Linked DNA regions of Homo sapiens. The protein of the gene in region 4 interacts with the protein of the main gene of each other region in a pairwise test. Each region holds a gene or a part of one and is shown on either strand. Other genes may lie near its edges.

What was found.
Region 1: the proteins of ANKHD1 (region 4) and NOD2 interact in binary tests that used the Homo sapiens proteins (3 or more experiments, as listed by UniProt).
Region 2: the proteins of ANKHD1 (region 4) and RBFOX2 interact in a two-hybrid assay, tested with the Homo sapiens proteins (one large-scale study listed by BioGRID).
Region 3: the proteins of ANKHD1 (region 4) and BDNF interact in binary tests that used the Homo sapiens proteins (3 or more experiments, as listed by UniProt).

Annotation. Positions count from the first base shown.
Region 1 is NC_000016.10:50,714,106-50,717,605, reverse strand, and holds part of NOD2 (nucleotide-binding oligomerization domain-containing protein 2), read right to left. Parts: intron 2,599-3,500; coding exon of another isoform or gene 2,598-2,598; exon of another isoform or gene 2,125-2,597; intron 1,998-2,124; exon of another isoform or gene 1,851-1,997; intron 1,020-1,850; coding exon 936-1,019; intron 716-935; coding exon 632-715; intron 1-631. UniProt on the Homo sapiens protein: Pattern recognition receptor (PRR) that detects bacterial peptidoglycan fragments and other danger signals and plays an important role in gastrointestinal immunity.
Region 2 is NC_000022.11:35,808,825-35,812,324, forward strand, and holds part of RBFOX2 (RNA binding protein fox-1 homolog 2), read right to left. Parts: intron 1,181-3,500; coding exon 956-1,180; intron 1-955. UniProt on the Homo sapiens protein: RNA-binding protein that regulates alternative splicing events by binding to 5'-UGCAUGU-3' elements. Prevents binding of U2AF2 to the 3'-splice site.
Region 3 is NC_000011.10:27,655,456-27,658,955, forward strand, and holds part of BDNF (neurotrophic factor BDNF precursor form isoform a preproprotein), read right to left. Parts: exon of another isoform or gene 3,131-3,500; coding exon of another isoform or gene 3,110-3,130; coding exon 2,366-3,109; 3' UTR 1-2,365. UniProt on the Homo sapiens protein: Important signaling molecule that activates signaling cascades downstream of NTRK2. During development, promotes the survival and differentiation of selected neuronal populations of the peripheral and central nervous systems.
Region 4 is NC_000005.10:140,407,599-140,412,833, forward strand, and holds part of ANKHD1 (ankyrin repeat and KH domain-containing protein 1), read left to right. Parts: intron 1-5,235. UniProt on the Homo sapiens protein: May play a role as a scaffolding protein that may be associated with the abnormal phenotype of leukemia cells. Isoform 2 may possess an antiapoptotic effect and protect cells during normal cell survival through its regulation of caspases.

The sequences.
Region 1 (3,500 bases), on a different chromosome or scaffold from region 4:
AAGCAATTCTTTACTTTGTCTTTTTTTACTGCCTCACAAATCACAGGAGGCAAGAATATCTGAGAGAGAGAGAAGGAGAGAGAAGCCAGGCCAACCCAGCGGCCAGCTAGAGGGGCAATTTAAAGGCATCAGGTAGGAGAGAGAGAGACTCCTGTTGAAACTGGGAGACACTGGAGTAGCAGAAATGCAGAACCAGATGGACTGCAAACCTTGCATGCTCTGAGTGGTGAAAGGACCTCCTGGGAGTGTTGCAGCAACTCGCTGCCACAGCTGGGGTGGCAAGTAACTGTGTATGCCTCCCCCACCAGGACGAGCTCAACATGCATCGTGGAACTCAGTAAACCCAGAAAGCTGTGACACTCTTAGACACAGAAAAGGAAAGGGGCCTAGAAAAGCTTTCTTGCCCTACGGGCTAAAGGTCAAAAGACAGGAAGTCCTCAGCAGAGCTAGTCCAGAGTTTACTGGGGAGATCACAGCATTAGAGAACCCCTGCTTAAAATGAGACACTGTCCCTGCATTCAATCAGGAGGTCAGGAGCCAGTGTGGGCAGTGCCAGGCCAAGACCAGATCAGACTGACTCAGGAATGGGGCAAAAAATAGTTTCCAGGGAATAAGGAAAACCTGGGCTCACCTCAATGCCAAGAAGTTCTGCCTGCATGCAAGGAGCTTAGCCATGGAGTGTGCACAGCCGTCAGTCAATTTGTTGTTGAATAGACTGTTCAGTTCCAGAAGAGAGGAGACACAGAAGCAAAGCACATTGGACAGTGAGCACCAAATCCCAGGGTTGCCCTTCCCCTCTGGGCAGGAATCACCTGCACCCCCCATCATGCAAACAGCCCCTGCCCCAGCCCATCACTCACAGCTTCCCAGGCTGCACGACCTGGGGTGAGACCAGGGCACTTGGAGCCCATTGTCCACAGCCCAGGCTGACTTACGCTAACTTCTGCAATTGCTCGCAGTGAAGAGCACATTCAATGAGCTTGCAGATGCCTCGGTCTGAGATATTGTTATCGCGCAAACTAAAGAGACAAAATAAATACATTTGAAAATGGAGCTAGTAAGACAAGAAAAAAATCTACAAATCCCCCAAAAAGACTTTCATTCATCCCTGAAGTGCCAGCATCTGTGCTTCCAGGAAACCCTGCATAGATGGAGCACCCCAAAAAAGTGGAGACCCCACGGTCCCTGGCCAGGGAGGTGACGTGGTGCACTATGATGGGGATGGCCCAGGACGTAGGATCCAGACCCCCTACTAAAGAACCCTGGAATCCTTAGGAAATGACAGAGCTAATTTGAGGCAATGTTTCCATCTCTGCAAAAGGAACATGATAATCACAGCAGCCTCACAAAGGGGATGATGGTGGAAAGGAGCTGATATATGCGAAAGGTGCAGCCTGAACTAGACAGGCTACCCCTGGGGACAATTTACCATCATCTAGGTCAGCAGACAGTAGACCAGCTGGATGAGAGTGGCCAAAACTTCAGAAACAGGCATATAGGCTGTGGTTAGTGAGGCCCTGCTGCCCAGTCCTTAACCCCAATGGCACCACTCCAACAGGCTAGTCCCTGCCGAGCAAGCCCTGTCTGCCACTCCTCTTGGGGCACCATTCCCAAAACTCACCTGATCACAACATCATCTGAAAGCTTCCCTAAAAGACAGATTCTCAGGCCCATACCCTGGAGCTGGCAATCAAGTATCTGCGGGGTGGGGCCCAGGAATCTGTATATTTTAACAACTGTGCACATGATTCTTTATCTTTAGGCAAACTTGGGAGGCCCTGACTGAATGGTTAACAGCTCAGGCTCTGGAGTGCCTCAGCTGGATATTGTGATCCTGATCAGCGACTTACTAGTTATTTGCTGGTCTCTTCATCTATAAAAGAGGGAACAGGCCGGGCACGGTGGCTCACGCCTGTAATCCCAGCACTTTGGGAGGCCGAGGCGGGCGGATCACGAGGTCAGGAGATCGAGACCATCCTGGTTAACACAGTGAAACCCTGTCGCTACCAAAAATACAAAAAAATTAGCCGGGCGTGGTGGCAGGCGCCTGTAGTCCCAGCTACTTGGGAGGCTGAGGCAGGAGAATGGCGTGAACCCGGGAGGCAGAGCTTGCATGAGCCGAGATTGTGCCACTGTACCCCCTGCCTGGGCAACAGAACGAGACTCCGTCTCAAAAAAAAAAAAAGAGGGAACAATAGTATTATCAGCCTCACCAGGCTGTGCACATAAAGCCTTGTGAGCACCCGGTACACAGTAAAAGTCACCTAGAATCATGATCGCTAGCACTGATCACTACCCTTACCACTTCTCAATAATAACACTATTTCATCCTCACAACAAGCCAGTGAAATGGGAACCATTATTATGAGCATTCGTGAGAAAGAAACTGAGGCACAGACAAGCGAAGTGACTTTGCCAAGGTTGTACGGCACATAAAGGCTTTGAGCCTAGGCGGCTTGGCTCCAAACCCCACTCTTAACCATGACATTGTGCAGCTTCTCCCTCAGGGCCTCTTATGGCCACTTCTGTAGTGCAGTGATTTTTCAGACTGCAGGTTGCAGGTCATGCAAATCATTTTGAAGGTCCTGAGCAGCATTTCTAAAATGGAAATAGAACAGAACAGAAGAGAGCAGAGTGTCTCAGAGTTCATAAAGCGAAGTCATTTTGTGAAACTTAGGTTCCATGTTTACATGGTGGTGCGTGCTCTCTCTCTCTCTTTCTCAATCATTGTGGGTAACATTCAAAAAACTTTTAAAGCCATCACTCTAGAGTCTGAGAGAGCCAGAGTCTAAAGAAACCTATATAGGGGCACTGTGTATATAGGGTTTCCTAGAGGCTGAGGATTTCAGTTGGCATGGAAACACTTCAAGTGGGAGAGAGGCAGGTTGGCACTGTGGGAGAGGAGCCTGTGCCCTCCCCCTTCCTCCCTTCCTCTCTTTCTCAATCTCTCTCTCTCTCTCATACACACACACACACACACACACACACACACACACACACACAGTGCACTCACAGCAACCTCATGGTTGCTTCCCCTCCCCTACGGCCTTGGCAGTTTTAGTGTGTGTAAGGTGAAGAGCAGTAAAACTCGCTCAAGGACAGTAATTGCTAATGGAAAACCAAGCTGGTTGCTGCAGACCAGTAGTTCTCCCAGGGCGAGACCACTTGTATCAGAATCACCAGGGGTGTCTGTGAAAAATATAGATTTCCTGGGCCCCACCCCAAACCTACTGAATGGGAATCACTAGAGGCAGGCCCAGGAATCTGCATTGCCACGAGTGCCTTTACACACCACAGTCTGAGCACCATGAGCTAGAACCAGGCCACCCTCACCTTTCTCTGAACACAGAGACAGACCCACAGGTTTCCCAGAGCCCTTCTGCACACCCTGGTAATCACGGGGACATCCCTAATCAAGGATGGATGATCCATTCAAGAATTCCAGAGATGGACTGGCCTATGAGGATCACACAGGCCAGTGATGCCTGGCCTCTTGGGGT
Region 2 (3,500 bases), on a different chromosome or scaffold from region 4:
CCTGGACAACAAAGCAAGAGACAATACAATTTCCCATATGTTGGTATGTATGAGATATATACCTATTATTAATTTATGACATTTCCTTTACTTTAGCAAGTTAGTAGTAAGAGGTGAAGTCAAAGAGGTAAGCTGGGGCTAGAGACTAGTAAACCAAGTACGGAGTTCAGATTATATTCTAATTGCATTAGGGAACTATTAAGAGTTAAGTAGGAAATCGGCATTTGCATTAAAAAAAAAAAAAAACCACCTTAGTCCTATGTGGAGGATAGATAAGTTAGGCAACAGTAATACCGGAAATAAGTGATGAGGTTTGGACTAGAGCAGTGATGATGATAAATTCTTTTAAATTTCCTAACAGCCTCTTCAGGTAGGTACTATTATCTTCATTTTAGAGTGAGCCAAGGGCAGAGAGATTAAATAACTGGTCCAAGGTCACACAGTTTAGTAGGGGCCATATTGAGATTCAAACACAAGCAATTTGGTGGAAGAGTAATAAGATGTAGAGAAGAAGACGAAGTAGTTTTAGAGTTATGGTTGTCAAGACTTGCTAATCAATTAGATGTACAGATGAAAGAAAGAAAGAAAGAATATTCCTAGGTTTTGCTTGAGTTTGGTAGTATAATTATGCAGAGAAAGGATATAAAATAAAAAGAAAAGGGGTTCCAGGACCTACATATGGAGTACTGCACCATTTAAAAGTTGAACAGAGAAGGAGGCAGGAGCAGAACACCCAGTGCTTGGCAGGAAAATTGGGAGAGCTCGAAAAGCCAAGAGACTAAGTATTTCTAGGAGGAGGGAGGACAATGTATACAATGCTGTTGAGAGAAGGTGTAAATGAGAACAGGTGTAAATGCTAAATTAATTCCGAGAGTCTTCTAATTGTATAATTAAGGCGACAATTTCTATATGATTGCCATGCATCCTTCCATTTTTCACCTCATGGTCCACGTACCGTAAGAGATCCATTTTGTGTGCTGGGTGAGTTGCTGCTCTGCTCCCCGTGGGCTTGCGTACTTCCGTAGAGTGTCAGGTTATGCTCACCGGTCTGGCCGGCATAGTCTTGAGTGTGTGGCACCCCATACTCTGTGGGAATTCCATTCTGCGGAGGTGGTGGAAATGGGATGGTAGTAAAAGGCTGAACCATTGCGTCAGGAGTTGTTGTCGGCTCCTGGTTACCCTAAAACAAACAACAAGAGAAAGAAAAAGTGACTTTGAATCCTTGTTACGTAACTATTTTTAAAGTGAGTATATGGAATTCTCTGAATATTCTCTCACTGCATAGGTAAAATGGAATGCTTATTGCTCCAGGATTGGAGAAAATATTATTACACATACACACATAGATATATGTATGTGGACAGACACACACACACACACACACACACACACACACACACTCACTTTTGTTAATGTGTAGTTACTAGACAGGCCCACAACCATATTTAAGTGGACTAGATGCCAAAGGGGCAAAAATCTTTCCTTTAAATTAAAAGTAGGTGGAGAGCCCACTTTGGACCACAAGCCACTACAGCCTATACCACAGAGAGAGACTCTGTCCCTAAAAAATACGAAAAACAAAAAAGAAAAATCAACTAGGAGAAAATATTAGCAAAAGGTAAGAGAGATGCTGGGTTATTATCACTAGTCCCAGAGTGGGTTAACCAAGTTGACAAGACAGACACACATGTACACACAAACACACACACATCCCAAGAGAAAAACAGGCAAACTGTGTATCTGAACAATTCATTGAAAATGAAATACAAACAACTAATAAAAATGCTCAACCTCACTAACTGTCACGAAAATTCACATTAACATCAAAGTAAGTCCAAGTCTTTAGTCATCAAATCAGCAAAAAAATTAAGCAGTTTTATTATGATATAACTGTCATATGATAAACAGCACTTATTTATTTACAGTATACAATTTGGTAAGTTTTGATATATGCACTTATATTCTCATGAAATCATCACCACAATCAAGATAGTCAACACATATATCCAAAACCCCCAAAAGTTTCCTTGTGCCCCAATAATAAACATATATTACTTTTGTAATAAAACCTATACAAATATATTGTTTTTAATACTAAAGAGAATGACAAAAAATATATCATCAATAAGGGGAAGCCAATATTCTGAAACACTGAATTACTGTGTTACTCTTAAGAGAATGGTAGTGACCTACCTTGAAACAAAAATTCATAACTCTCTTCCATTTAAAAGTTAAACAACTTCAAAATTCAGCTGTCTCCAATGTCCAAGAATCATTTCTACTTGGTAATAAAAACTGCTTTACACAATAGTGGTGAAAGAAAAAAGGCAGAGAATTGGGGGTGGGGGGCTGCCACAGTCTAGATAAAAAGTGATGAACTGATTACAGTTATCAGTGGGAAGGGGCAGAGTCATAGACTGAGTTGTGCTCAGTCTCCAACCCGTATGTTGAAGTTCTAACCCTCAGTACCTCAAAATGTCACTGTTTTTAAAGATAAGGTCTTTAAAAAGGTAATTAAAGTGATGTCATGAGGGTGGGCCTTAATCCAATTGGAGTGGTGTCCTTATAAGAAAAGGGAATGTGGATACAGACACATACAGAGGGAGGCCCATGTGAAGACACAGAGCATGACCATCTACAAGCCAACAAAAAAGACATCAGAAGAAACCAACCCTGCTGACACCCTGATCTTGCACTTCTAGCCTCCAGAATGGTAAGAAAATACATTGCTATATTGTTATGTAATACTTTCTTATGGCAGCCCTTGCAAACTGGTAAAGGCAGGAATGAAGATTCTGTAACAGAAATTAATAATAAAAATAAAAATAAATTGCTTTACATAAAAATTTTCCTGCTATTGGACATAATGGTTCATGCCCTTGTAATCCCAGCACTTTGGGAGGCTGAGATGGGAGGACTGCCTGCGGCTAGGAGTTCAAGATCAGCCTGGCCAACACAAAGAGACCCTGTCTCTAGAAAAACTTTAAAAAATTAGCTGGGCATGGTGGTATGTGTAGTCCCAGCTACTTGTGAGGCTGAGAAAGGAGGACTGCTTGAGCCCAGGAGCTGGAGGCTGCAGTGAGCCATGATTGCATCACCCTAGCCTGGGCAACAGAAAGACCACGTCTCTTAAGGGAAAAAAAAAAAAAAAAAAGGCTGGGTGTGGTGGCTCACTTCTGTAATCCCAGCACCTTGTGAGGCTGAGGCGGGCAGATCACTTGAGGTCAGGAGTTCAATACCAGCCTGGCCAACATGGTGAAACTCCATCCCTATTAAAAATACAAAAATTAGCCAAGCATGGTGCCAAATGCCTTTAATCTCAGATATCTTGGAAGCTGAGGCAGGAGAATCGCTTGAACTCAGGAGGAGGACATTGCAGTGAACTGACATCGCTGCCATTAAACTCTAGCCCGGGCAACAGAGTGAGTGAGACTCCATCTCAAAAGATAGAAAAAAAAAAAAACCCCTCTCTTTAGTTCTTAGAAAATATGTTATGAAAA
Region 3 (3,500 bases), on a different chromosome or scaffold from region 4:
ATTTGTCCCTCAAAAGGAAGCTGCATAAAGTTGACATACAGCAGATATTCCAAGCATTCCTTACATATTAAAAATAATTACAAAGATAATATTTTCAAACAACACAAAACAAATCTACACTACGTAAAGTCTTCCTTCTTTCAAAGAGGTATTCAGATGGTACTGTGAAAGACTAGCTCTAAATGAAAGACTGAACAAATTGAAATTCTTTGCTGATGGTATCTTCATTCCTGGGTTATGGTGAACATCCTCTTTTGCTTATCCCTCACCCTACTAAGATGCAGCAATTGCTTGGGGCTTTCTGATACTTAAGGATGCTGGTCCAAGTGGTGATCACTAACATTTTCAGGTGTGAAATGGGCTGAATGGGCTTAGAGCTCTAGTTTTCACTGGGGATCCATTTTTCCAAGAACCACTATTTCAGGCTCCCAACTTGACTTCTCCTAACCCAAAATGGCAGAGGTGAGGCAGGGACCCTCTCCATGAACAGACAGGATGGGCAGAAGGTTGCTGTGGCCTTCACTGGGGAGCAAAATTTTGTCAGCTCTGTCCTGGCCTCTTCCATTGAGCAAGGCACCTTCAAGTCTTGGTGTTCTGAATGTCCAGACACCTTCCCGAAGTCTTGTCTCTGGACAAGATTTCCTATGGGTCCCCTTGATCATTCGGCCTGAGTTTGGGGTTTCTTTTCCTGTTCCCTTTTCCCTTACCAAAAGTTCTCAAAAGATAAACCCTGGTTTCCTCAAGTCTAGTTTCAAAGCAATAAGTGTTCAGGTAGCAAACATCTTCTATCTCATTGCATCAATCTCATGATCACAAATGCCACATTTGGCTCCCAACCTGCTCCAGGCTAATCCAATTTTATGCAAAATTATCCAGAGGTGGGATGGTGGGCATAAGTCGGCTTGAGTGTGGTCCTCCAGTCGAGAACCTCTTGAGCACAGTTAGATAATGTAGGCACTTAAAGCACGAGGTCCAAGCAGCTTGACACATGTCATTCCAGAGCCACCTCTGAAGGGTCCTTCAGAGGCCTTCGTTTTGGAATGTCTCAAATACCATGCCCCACCTCCACCTAGACCTTGGGATGGCCACTCAGAAATTCCTCCCGCACTGCCGGTAAATGCAATGCCAACTCCACATAGCCTCCATTTGGCTGTTCAGTCTCATGTCACTGGCAATGTGGATTCCTGTTCTGATCTAGGTGTTTCTGGGTTGATACAGGGCTCTACCTTTTGCTTACAAGACATTGTTAAGCCTCACCATGAGTTTTTTTTAAGCTTAGCCATGATTTACCCAAATGTTCACTCCTCATAAAAAATAATCTTCATTTTGGGGTTATTTTTTGTTGTTTTCTGTTCTAAAAAAAAATCACTGTTCTCCATGCTTATACGAGTGTCATGATGTGACACAATGTGTTCACTTGTTCACAGCAGTGGTAAAATATTTCAGAACGCGCAACTGATTTTTCTTCCTTAAAACAAAACAAAGAGGAGACCAGAGGGGGAGGGGGGGAAAGAATGTGTTCTGAGCAAACATAGGTCCTTCCGTCAAAAGCAGCTTACTCTGACCAACGCCCAAAGAATGAGCGGGGCCTGGGAGGTGCATCACGGGATGTGGAGTGTGAGCATTTTTTTGTTCAGTTGCCTTAATTTTTATTCACTTTCTAGTCATCTGATCGATATTGCAAACATCTTCACAACATACAAATGTATCTTTTATCAGCCAGAATATATATTGTAGGAATTCTTTCCCCATCTCTACTCCCTGTGGGAACTAAAAAACAAAACAAACAAACGAAAAAAAAACACAAAACAAACAAAAATATACCCCCCATCCCCCATCCCCTAAGCCAGTAAAGCAATGACAACAGCACCTTGACATTGTTTTAATTCCAACGCTATCAGAAGTTAAAAGCAGTAAAACAGATATAGTACTAACAAGAACGAAGATACTTACTGTCTAAAATGTAAACGGAATGTTTTGGTTCAAATTTTTGTTGTGTGTGTGTGTGTTTTTTTTCTGTTTTCTGAAAGAGGACAGTTTATTATCAATTCACAATTAAAGCAGCATGCAATTTATTATTTTTTTTAACTTTTTATGTTTTCAGTTCTTGGCAACGGCAACAAACCACAACATTATCAAGGAATGTAATGCAGACTTTTTAAGTTGTGCGCAAATGACTGTTTCCCTTCTGGTCATGGACATGTCCAATAAATAGATTGTAGAACCACTGTACTGTATAAACTTCATTTATACATGCAGTTCATAAAATTATTTTTTTCTTAACTGAATAATTTACCCTGTTATGTATATATACAAATAGATAATTTTTGTCTCAATATAATCTAATCTATACAACATAAATCCACTATCTTCCCCTTTTAATGGTCAATGTACATACACAAGAAGTGTCTATCCTTATGAATCGCCAGCCAATTCTCTTTTTGCTATCCATGGTAAGGGCCCGCACGTACGACTGGGTAGTTCGGCACTGGGAGTTCCAATGCCTTTTGTCTATGCCCCTGCAGCCTTCTTTTGTGTAACCCATGGGATTGCACTTGGTCTCGTAGAAGTATTGCTTCAGTTGGCCTTTTGATACAGGGACCTTTTCAAGGACTGTGACCGTCCCGCCCGACATGTCCACTGCAGTCTTTTTGTCTGCCGCCGTTACCCACTCACTAATACTGTCACACACGCTCAGCTCCCCTCGGCGGGCAGGGTCAGAGTGGCGCCGGACCCTCATGGACATGTTTGCAGCATCTAGGTAATTTTTGTATTCCTCCAGCAGAAAGAGAAGAGGAGGCTCCAAAGGCACTTGACTACTGAGCATCACCCTGGACGTGTACAAGTCTGCGTCCTTATTGTTTTCTTCATTGGGCCGAACTTTCTGGTCCTCATCCAACAGCTCTTCTATCACGTGTTCGAAAGTGTCAGCCAATGATGTCAAGCCTCTTGAACCTGCCTTGGGCCCATTCACGCTCTCCAGAGTCCCATGGGTCCGCACACCTGGGTAGGCCAAGCCACCTTGTCCTCGGATGTTTGCTTCTTTCATGGGGGCAGCCTTCATGCAACCAAAGTATGAAATAACCATAGTAAGGAAAAGGATGGTCATCACTCTTCTCACCTGGTGGAACTGTAGGGAGAAAGCAGAAACAAGACAGAAAACTGGTTAGGGCTTTCTTTCACCGGGATGCCATGTGGCCCATCTGATTGTAATTCCAGGCCATTCTGCAGGGTCAAGGTTTTTTTATGTCTTGGTGATAAACTCCAGCTGCACCAGACACAAATCAGTGTCAGTAGTGTGCTGTATGTGGTTTAATATAAACCAGAGACATGCAGTGTTTCCCCCAAGATCTAGCATATAAACCTGAGATTAGATGGCTTCTAAGCAAGTGCAAAAATTGTGGCTTCAAGTTCTCCTTCTTCCCACTTTAGCAGCTTTGTAAGTTTAATTTTTAATGATCTCTGCTCATGCTGTCACGAGAAACACAAAATCATAAATG
Region 4 (5,235 bases):
AGGCTAGTCTTGAACTCCTGGCCTCAAGGGATCCTTCTGCCTGGGCCTCCAAAAATGCAGAGATTACAAGTTGTAAGCCACTGTGCCTGACCGAAAAACCAATTTTTAAATTTTAATTTTAGAATTGTGGTCTTTTAATTTTTTTAGCAAATCGAAATAAAAATACAGTTTCTAAAGAAAAGATTGTGTGAGACATGGTTTTCAATTTTTGTCGTAAGAATGAATGTGTGTGTATATGTGTGTTTGTGTGTGTATGTGTGTGTGTGACGGCCCTCTTTTAAAATTATTACAAAAGTGGCCGGGCGCGGTGGCTCACGCCTGTAATCCCACCACTTTGGGAGGCCAAAGCGGATGGATCATCTGAGGTCAGGAGTTTGAGACCAGCCTGGCCAACATGGTGAAAGCCTGTCTCTACTAAAAATACAAAAATTAGCTGGGTATGGTGGCAGGCGCCTGTAATCCTAGCCACTTGGGAGGCTGAGGCAGGAGAATCTCTTGAACCCGGGAGACGGAGGCTGCAGTCAGCCAAGATCATACCAGTGCACTCCAGTCTGGGTAACAGAGCAAGACTCCATCTCAAAAAATTAGAAAATAATAAAATTATTACAAAATAGTTACTTGTTGAAAAACTCAACAATATAGATAGTAGGTATAAGGGGAAAAGTAAAAGTGCTTCTTCCCACCCCCATTAATTCTTCAAATTCTACCCTTCAAGGTAACCAATATTAAAATTTTTCATTCAGTAAATTTTCTAGGCCTATCTTTCTATGTATATATGTATATATGTTCATATACACATACTTTAAAGGCATATCAAATTTAAAAGTGTAGCTTTATATCACACTGAGGTTTTTTTCTTGAAGCAGGTGCTGTATTTACAATTATATAAAAGCACGCAGAAATTGTATTTAGCTCTGAAAATATAGCACAAGCTTTGTAGGGATTCCTTTTTCCCTGAAAATTACTTTTAACATCAAAAGCAAAAGTCATACAGAAATCCCATCCTGATTTTCTCCAGTAGGTAAGGAGTTGGGTCATATCCTTTAAGATTGTTTATGATCTATATATAATCTGTTTTTTAATTTTTAATTAAATTTTTTTTACCGTTATGTGTTTTGAGAGATGGGGGTCTCGCTTTTTTGCCCAGGCTGGCTGTTGCCCTGGCTACACAGTGCGGTGGCATGGTCATAACTCTATGTGGTCTCCCACTCCTGGGCTCAAGCAATCCTTCTGCTTCAGCCTCCCAAGTAGTCAGGACTACAGGGGACTATAGGTGTGCACCACAATACTTGGCTAGTATGATCTATAATCTAGAGCAGTTTCTCAAGAGCAACATATAGACATTTTGGGACAGAGAATTCTTTGTTGTGAGGGGCTCTCCTGTGCATTAGAAGCATCCCTGGCCTCTACCCACTAGATGCCAGTAGAACCCGATTATGATAGCCAAAAATTGTTCAGACGTTGCCAAATGTCTCCTAGGGACAAAATCACTCCTGGTTGAGAGCTACCGGTCTAGAGGCCACTCTTGTCAGGAATGGTAGTTTTGTTATACTCTGTATTCAAACTTAAGGTAAACAAGGTGAGTCACTGCTTTTAATAGCATTTCAGGACTTATGCTTATAACCTGAACAAGGGAGAAATAGAAGGTACTGAAAGGTTTAATATAAAACTAGCATGCACTGCTGTAAATTTTCTATGGTAAATGTATCATTTTGGGGAACTTTCACTTAAAATATATTATTTTTCAAAAAGTTCAGTTGTCCATGAAAATGAATTTTTAAAAAACTTTTATGGGGACTTCCAGTTTGTTCAAAGTAGAAATGCTTTATTCCATAAATTATCATTTGTAGTGATAACATAGGAAATATAACTTTGTATTCTAGTGGGCTAATTTTGGAGACTTTGGAAATGCTTATTGAATAAAAAGAATTATATGTTATTACTGTAACAATTTTTTTTTTTTTTTTTTGAGTCAGAGGAGCCTTGCTCTGTCACCCAGGCTGGAGTGCAGTGGCAGGATCTCGGCTCACTGCAGCCTCCACCTCCTGGGTTCAAGTGATTCTCCTGCCTCAGCCTCCTGAGTAGCTGGGACTACAGGCCCGTGCCACCACGCTCGGCTAATTTTTTGTATTTTTAGTAGAGACGGTGTTTCACTGTGTTACCCAGGATGGTCTCGGTCTCCTGACCTTGTGATCCACCCGCCTCAGCCTCCCAAAGTGCTGGGATTACAGGTGTGAGCCACCGCGCCCAGCCACAATTTTTTGTATGTTGCACAAATATCAACCTTTCACAAGCTTCATGATGTAAAGCCTTAAGACTTTACATATAAAATGATGCATTGATAAGTATATTTATGTGAATGGTGGGGTTGATGCAGAGTTGATTAGTATGGGTGGAGGAAAACTTTTTGGGAAACTTTAAGTATGAGAGGTTTTTGTTGTTATTAGTATATTTTCAATAGATAATTACATTCATATAGTTCATAAGTCAAAGTAATATAAGGGCAGATACAGTGAAGTCTCAATCTCACCCTGCTCCCACATATCTTGCTCTTTATACTTTTAATAAAAGTATTATATAGCCTTTCAGAATTTCTTTATGAAAATACAACTATGTGTATTTTCCCTACTGTTACACAGATGGTAAGATGCTATTTATGTGAAATTTTTAAATGGTAAATTTGAGAAGGATTTAGACTTTTTTAAAAAATTAAAGTGATAAATTATGTTATGAATGAAGGATGGAGGTGAGTTTAAGCACATTCCTTTCTGAGTCTATTTGTTAGTAGAGTGCTGATTGACTAGATGAATTCAAAATCAGTTCTGGCCTTCTGATTCAGTGATCACTAATATAAATAAAATATGTTACTTTAAAGAAAAGCAAAACAGTTTTAAACAGTTTTAGCCTTGAATTGGCAAGTAAACAAAATAAATGACAAGTTTACCAAATTTTTTTTTTTGGCCAAATTTACTTTCTCAGAACTAAAGTTGTAATAAATAAAATCAATTCTTTTTTTAAACCCACTATAAAGGAACTGTTTCAATGTATCTGTCTTCACAGACCTTATTGATCACATTTCCCTCTCCTATTGCTTGTCTATAGAGTCATAGAATCTTGGTGATAATCCTATCTCATCTCATTTTTAGGTAACTGCTACCATTTATTGAATGCTTATTATATACCAGTACCGTACTAGATACTTTCGTTATTTTATTTAATCGTTTCATCACCCCTTTGAGGTAGGTATTATCTACATTTTTATAGATGAATAAGTGTAGGCTCAGAGAGTTTTTAGAGTAATGAATCTAAAAAACAAAAAAATGGTTAAAATGTTATATGGCTAGTGACTGGTAAAGGTGGGATTTGAATGTGATACTGAATTTAGAGCCCATACTGTTATTTTGCTTCAAATTAAGAAATATGTAGTTTTTGGTTACCAAATGCTGTTTTTTAAATAAATCATTGTTTAGTTCCTATTGAAGTTTTCACAGATGTAAAGTAAAATGGAGAAAATAAGCAGGATGTAGTGAATTTCTAATGAAGCTATTTTTTCCCACTTTTTTCTATTTTGACAAATACTCTTCCTACTTTTACAAAATGAATTTTTAAAACTATCTGTACTTAACAGAATATCAACTGGAAACTTCATTTGGGACCCTGGATAAAAGCCTCAGAAGTCTGGGAACTGTTGAGCTAAATGACTTGCCCAGATCACACAGTTAATATGTAGCAGTCAAGACTGAAAAATAGGCCATCTGATTCCCATTCTAGTTATCCTACCTTCCAGATTCTCCTAACTTTCTTTTGATGCATTATATTAATGAGTTTAATTAGTTGCTTATAAATGCCTCTTTCAAACTATTATAGTTTATAATCCATAGTTGATCTTGTTGGAAAAGTTTTTTTTTTTTTTTGGCTGTTTTTTTTTTGGTTTGTTTGAGAACGGAGTCTCACTCTGTTGCCCAGGCTGGAGTGTAATGGTGCAATCTTGGCTCACTGCAACCTCTGCCTCCCGAGTTCAAGCAATTCTCCTGCCTCAGCCTCCTGAGTAGCTGGGATTATAGGCGGCCACCACCATACCCAGCTAATTTTTTTTTGTATTTTTAGTAGAGATGGGGTTTCACCATGTTGGCCAGGCTGGTCTCGAACTCCTGACCTCAGACTATCTGCCCACCTCAGCCTCCCAAAGTGCTGGGATTATAGGCTTGAGCCACTGTGCCTGGCCTTTTTTTAAATTTTTTTTTTTTTGAGACAGGGTCCCGTTATGTCACCCAAGCTGGAGTGCGGTGGTGCAGGAGTGCAGTGGCTCACGATCGTATGGCGCAATCACGGCTCAGGCAGCCTTGACCTTCTGGGCTCAAGCGATCCTCCCCTTTCAGCCTCCCAAGTGTCTGGGACCACAGGCGCACACCACCGTACCCTGCTAATTTTTAAATTAAATTTAATTAATTAATTTTTTCCGACACACAGTCTTAGTTGCCCAGGCTGGAGTGCAGTGGCGGATCTCAGCTCACTGCAACCTCCGCCTCCTGGGTTCAGGCAATTCTCCTGCCTTAGCCTCCCAAGTAGCTAGGATTACAGGTGCGTGCCACCATGCCCCGCTAATTTGTTGTATTTTTAGTAGAGATGGGGTTTCACCATGTTGACCACGCTGGTCTCAAACTCCTGACCTTGTGATCTGCCCACCTCCCAAAGTGCTGCGATTACAGGCGTGAGCCACCGTGCCCGGCTATTTTTTTTGTAGTTACAAGGTCTCATTATGTTGTCCAGGCTGGTCTCAAACTCCTGAGCTCAAGGGATCCTCCTGCAGTGGCCTCCCAGAGGGCCAAGATTACAGGCATGAGCTACCACGCCTGGCCGGAAAAGTTTTATATTTTTTAATGAAATTACTGTCATGTAGATCAGCATAAGAGAGTGTACCACTAGAGTATAGGGGGAGCACTATTCTAAAGAAATTTTGTAATGAACTTAATTGGAAAGTTCAGGTCTTTCATTATTCATTTAAAAAGGATTAAGAAATAATTAAAACCATTGAAATAGAAAGGCATATGCCCAACTTTGCAGCTTTGCCAATATGGGAAATATTTGTTTTACAATATTGTTATATTCCAATTATTTTGTAAAAATTGTAATCTGCTTTTCTATTGATAGTTACAGACAGTGCATGGTTCCTGTGAGTAAAGATCAATTGACTTATGATGATTGACTAGTTTACCTTTCTTCCTGCCAAGTTTA